Regions from separate parts of the Homo sapiens genome. Here region 2 is linked to region 1. The links come from fine-mapping of genetic effects on gene expression. A gene starts in region 1. The other region holds a variant in brackets. All regions are shown on one strand. Distances are from middle to middle. Region 1 holds the start of EMILIN3 (elastin microfibril interfacer 3). Region 2 has its middle 29 kb from the start of EMILIN3.

The links. PIP is the estimated chance that this variant, and not a neighbour inherited with it, causes the effect.
Region 2: its variant is fine-mapped to the expression of EMILIN3 in testis (GTEx, PIP 0.99). The same link has a PIP of 0.9 or more in thyroid.

Annotation. Positions count from the first base shown.
Region 1 is chr20:41,365,187-41,368,081 of GRCh38, reverse strand. It overlaps EMILIN3 (elastin microfibril interfacer 3), which reads left to right and starts at 1,264. Exons shown (of 4, transcript NM_052846.2): 1 at 1,264-1,614. The coding sequence starts at 1,448. RefSeq lists an enhancer at 2,026-2,527.
Region 2 is chr20:41,394,332-41,397,226 of GRCh38, reverse strand. No RefSeq gene overlaps it. Among named protein-coding and RNA genes, the nearest start is that of EMILIN3, 29 kb to the right of the region's middle. The variant G/A (reference allele first, on the strand shown) is at 1,777.

The DNA.
Region 1 (2,895 bases):
CTGAGAAACTCACACAACCTACACCTGGAAGCTGGATTCCTTCAGCTTCTGTGTTCTGATTCCAAAGCCTGGGGGAAAGCAGGATGGGCCTAGCTGGGGTCAGATGTCCGCCCCACAGAACCCAAAAGCCACTAAAGCTAAGGGCAGGAAATAGATGTGGGTTTCGGAGCTGCCCCTTCCAGTATCCTTGATAACCATCACCCTATCCAAAAGGCATTAATTCATATCTCAAGGTCAATTTGGAGGGAGGTCTCTCCAAGCAAGCCCCAGAGTTCTGTACACCTATCAGCTCCTGGGGCAAAGACACAGACGGCTGTAGCCACCGGTGTGGATGAGACAAGGCCAGGAAAGTACCGCTCTGATGACAGAATCAGAAGGACTCTGTGCAGGTTAGAGAGTTAGCAAGGTGATACTGAATGAGGACGACGATAAAACCCAACTCTTGGGTTCCAAGAGTCAACTTCACAAGCAAAATGTGGACGACGCCTGGCTTCACCGCGGCAGTGCCTTGTGAGAAAGACCTGAGGATTTTCTCTGACCAGCCGGCTTAGAGCTTCAGTTGCACGAAAAGCACAGCACTTTTGGCTGGGCTGGGGCGGTGATAGGCCTTTCGGGCTCGGTGCAACCCATACCTAAGACAGAGAGGCAACACAGGCGCCTCCAGAGAACCAGAGGTGCAACCGGGCCACCAGGCTACGTGGCAGAGGTTGCGGGGTAAGGGGGAGGTGGGATGCCTGGGGAGAGGTCAGCGGAGTTATCAAACTAAGGTTCCCGGGCAATGATGGGGCCAGGAGGCAGAGCGAGCAAACGGGGATGATCTGGGGTCTATTCCAAAGAGGTGGCGGGGGAGGTGGTGCTGCTGTGCCCCCAGTCACGGCCATCTCGGCTCCAGAGCCCTGGAGAGCAGTTCCCGGGTTCACACGGACTCTGAAGACAAGCGTATCCTGAGGGTGGACGACTCCTGGAAAGTCCACGCCCAGGCTGGCCTCAGGGGTCCGCTTCTCTGCGTCTCGCCCCGTGCCCGCAGGCGACAGAGTGGCTGGTGTGCTCGGGGGGCCTCCCAGGGCGCGGCGGCCTGCGCCCCTGCCACCTGGGGCTGCTCCCTTTGGAACCTCCTGTTCGCAGGCGGCTCCTCGGCCGTCCGCTCGGAGCTGGGGCGAGGGGCTGGCGGCGGCGAGCGGCGCGGCCCCAAGTTTATGCTAATCCGCAAAGAGCCCGCCTCCCGCCTCCCCTCCGCGGCCCCAGCCGCTAGCAGCGCCGGCCACTCCGCGGGACGCAGCCGCCGCGAAGCGCCAGGCGGCCGGGCCAGCGAGCTCGGGGGCCGAAGGGGACCCCGGGACCCTCGGGGCGGGACCCGGGCCGACCAGCGGCGGGGGCGGCGCGGCGCTGCAGGCGGACACCCGGCGGGGGGCACCGCGCGGGGCCGGGCAGAGGCGCGGGGGCCGCTATGGGCCGCCGCCGCCTGCTCGTCTGGCTGTGCGCCGTCGCGGCGCTGCTCTCGGGGGCGCAGGCCAGGGGCACCCCGCTCCTGGCGCGGCCTGCGCCGCCCGGTGCCTCCCGCTACAGTCTCTACACGACGGGATGGCGCCCGCGGCTGCGCCCGGGGCCGCACAAGTAAGCGCGGGCGGGCGGCGGGCGGGAAGAGGGAGGGATGGGCCCGCGCGCGTCGCCGCTCCCACCTGCCCGCACCCGCGGGGGGCGTCGAGGCCCCGGGCACCCCGAGGCCGCTGCACAGAGGGGGCGGCGCCCGGGGCCGAGCCCCTGCCCAGGCGAGCGCCCTACGCTCCGGGAGGTTGCGGGGCTGGCGAGGAAAAAGGAACCGAGGGGGCCTGGCGCGGCGGCTTGGGATCCTGGCAGTGCCAGCGGAAACCTTTCCAGCGAAGTAACATTTTCCAGCTGCGCTGTGTGCAGACTCCGGGCGAGCGGACCAGGTGGAGGGAGAGGAGGAAAGGCGGTCCGCGCGCTGAGCACGCGGGGCTCCCCCGCCCCGGGCCTCCCTTCTCTCCCCTGGCCCGGCCAGGTAGGAGATAGAGCTGCGCATCCGGGCGGCCGCTGCCCTCTCGCAGTCAGCCTGGCCCCAGCAACCCCATGGGAGCCCCAGCGTGGCCGGGCTGCAGAGCCAGAGCGGGCTCCTGGCTCCGGGCCTGTGCTGTGGCACAGCCGTCCACAGCGGTCGGCTTATGCCAGGCAGCCACCTCCTCAGCCCTTGTGGCTCATCAAGGAGCCTGCTTTCCCCGCCTCAGCTTCTGGTGTTTCGTGGGCAGTGGCTTGCGAACTGGCCTCAGTTAAGTGGGCTGGAGGCTCTGCCTGGGGTGCTGGCTGAACTTGAATTCTAGCTGAATTTGAGAGCTGTTGTAGGAGGAAGAGTACCGACACTCAGTGGGCCTGGGTACATCACAGCGAGCCTCCTGGAGGAGGTGGTACAAGAACTGCTCTGAGAGTAAGGGAACAGGACCAAAGGCAGGGGCTGCAAAACTACGAGGAGAGGTGGATTTCCCCGGGAGCCAGGCAGGGAGGAAGGACAAGACATGGTGCTCTCAAAGGAGTCACTGAGTGGGGACTCGGAAGCCTTAAATGCCAAGATAAGGAGTTTGGAATCAGCGAAGGATGGGGGGGTGTGGCAGGGCACTTGAGGGAGAATCCGGGCTGGCCTCTTCCCCACGCAGGGAGGGGCAGCCACATCAGGCTCCTGGTTCCAAATAGTGCTTAGCCCAGGGGCCACCCATCACGGAGGCTGGAATCAGAGACCAGCAGCGGGGCTGGACCCCAGACCAAGGGCGTTGGCTCCCAGGGACACAGAGAACAGACAGAAGAGACATGGGAGTTTGGAGTCCTGCTGAGGCCCACAGATGGAGGTGGGAGGGTAGGCGCCTCTGTGGGCCTCGCTCAGCCAGA
Region 2 (2,895 bases), 29 kb before region 1:
TTTAAAATATTTCATATGGCCAGGCACAGTGGCTCATGCCTGTAATCCCAGCACTTTGGGAGGCCAAGGCGGGCGGATCATCTGAGGTGAGGAGTTCGAGACTAGCCTGGCCAACATGGCAAAAGCCCATCTCTACTAAAAATACAAAAATTAGCCAGGTGTGGTGGCAGGAGCCTGTCATCCCAGCTACTGGGAAGGCTGAAGCAGGAGAATTGCTTGAACCCAGGAGGCAGAGGTTGCAGTGAGCCGAGATGGAACCATTGCACTCCAGCCTGGGCAACAGAGTGAGACTCCATCTCAAAAAATACACACACACACATACATATATATATATATATATATATATTTCATATTAACTCCAACATGGTTTTGTATAAAAATGAATCACATAGTGGAATATAAGATTCATGTCTACTTTTGAGATAAAATGCTTCCAAGAAGCCCTTGGCTTTGGGCATGCTTCTTGAGGGCCAGCCTCCAAACCCGAGGGCATACTTTCACTTTGGAGGAAACACTGGAGTTGCCCTGTCCCCCTCCCCTCTTCACACTGAGTCTTTTTTGTTTGTCTGTTTTTGTTTTTGTTTTTTTGAGACAAAATCTCCCTCTGTCACCCAGGCTGGAGTGCAGTGGTGTGATCACAGCTCACTGTAGCCTCGAACTCCTGGGCTCAAGCGATCCTCCTGCCTCGAGAGTGACTGTCCTGTTCCCCACTGAGATGTCCAGCTGGCTCTCAGAAGCAGGACACTAGGAGAGGCTCAAGAGTCCAGGTCGATGCAGTGCTGTGGCCAGACTGAAGCAGCTTTGCCACGTCACCCTGGTCTCATCTACCATCAGGCCCCTGCTGGCTGTGTGTGCCTGTTCCCCCTCAGGATGACAACCTGGCCTCACCTTTCTCTGTCCCCAGCGCCTTGGGGCTCTTTGAAAATCCTCAGGGACTCCCAAAGCCTGCATAGGGCAGGAGAGCTGGGCCGAGGAAGGTCCACGCTGCACAGGGCAGGCAAGGACTCAGCACTGCTGGGTGTTTAGACTCTTTCCTGGCTCAGACCAAGAAAACTCTAAACTCTGTAGACACAGCTCCCAACCCCCACCCACTCCCCACTCCAGCTCTGACCCAGGCTTTTCCATTCACAGATCCCAGACTTTCCAGACCGGCAAAGAGCCCGGAGGCACAAGGCACCGTGAGTGCCTTGGGCAGGGGTTGGGGGCGGGGCGGTGGATTGTATGAGGCTGAGGAAAGCCCCAGCCGCAGCCCCTTGGGCCTCCCCAGGTAGAAGACACCCCTACCCTCACCCCAGTCCCTTGTCAAATTTCCCCGTCAAGAAGCAGCACATACGTATATAAGGATACTCCTAGTGTTGGTGTGCATCTGAGAGAGAGGGAAGGAGGGAGGGAGGGAGAGCTGGAGGGCGGTGGGGCAGGGGAGCAGGTGTTCCTCCTGGCTAAGCCCCTGCAGCTACTTCCTTTCTTCTCCCAGACAAGTTGAGGATAATTAGCATCCCATGAGGGAAGAAAGAGGCAGCTCCCATCCCTAGACTGAGCGTGGGAGAATTCAGAGCCCCCACCAACTCCACTCCCAGTGCGCAACCCAGCATCCCCAAAACAGGCCCAAGGACAAGGAGTCCACCACCCCCACCCTGTGGGCCCAACCACTCCCAGCCTCTGTAAGGAACAAGAGTTCAAAGAAATAAAACCTCCATCCAAAGAGGTACTTGCTCTGCACAGTCAACCGGGGGGGCACAATGTTCTTGAAACCCTGACCTTTCTTTGGAGTTACTG[G/A]TTGTTTCTTGTGTTCTCTGGCTCCTTTTCAAGCTGGGCTGGTCCATGAGTGTCTCTCAGGGACAAGGTACGACAATCGGAAGCAGACAAAAAAAGATTCTCTGCTTGGCTTTTGAGTTTCGGTGCCTGGCCTGGGCACATGCCAGATAAGAGCAAAGCTTCCCAGCTACCATCCCTCCCGCCTGGAAAAAGGTTTCTGAAGGGAAGAGGAAAGGGGTGGTTGGCAGCGGTCAGTGGGGATGGACTGAAGGAACCAGCCTCTTTGAGGGTGTCTCGTCTGTTTCCAGCACCCAGGAGCCCCCTGGAGCCATGTCTGAACCCAGGCTTCTGGGATCCTCTTCCTCAGTTGCCCCACCAGCCTGCCCCTCCCACACGGCTGTGGCATCTCCAGCAGCAGCCCCTGTGTCTCCTGTGACAGACCAGTGAGGGGGGTGCCACCTGTGCCCTGAGCATCCACTTGAGATAGGGTCTTACCCATTGGACTGCCCTCCCATCTTCACCCTAGGGCACCCTTAAGACCCAGTGGAGGCCAGGTACGGTGGCACACACCTGTGATTCCAACACTTTGGGAGGCCGAGTTGGGTGGATCGCTTGAGATTAGGAGTTCGGGACCAGCCTGGCCAACATGGTGAAACCCCGTCTCCACTAAAAATACAAAAATTAGCCAGGCATGGTGGTGCGTGCCTGTAATCCCAGCTACTCAGGAGGCTGAGGCAGGAGAATCACTTGAACGCGGGAGGCGGAGGTTCCAGTGAGCCAAGATTGCACCACTGCACTCCAGCCTGGGCAATAGAGTGAGACTCAGTCTCAAAGAAAAAAAAAAGACTGGGTTGAGCCCCAGTAGGGGAGATAGCAGTACAGAAAGCCCCTCTCTTGTGCCTCAGTGGGACTAGGAGAAACAGCTTGAGGTCCCCTGCACCCCAAGTAAGGCAAGTGCTGGGTAAACCAACCCTGTGCTCAAACACTGACTTTGTGATATGGACTCAGGAGGCCTTGAGCAAAAGGGCCAGCCAGGCTCAGAGCCTGCTACTCTGAAGTCTGGCAGTGGCACCCACCTCCCTGCAGAAGAGGCAGACCCAGGGTTATCCATGGCAGGGTCACCAGGGCCTGGGGCTGCAG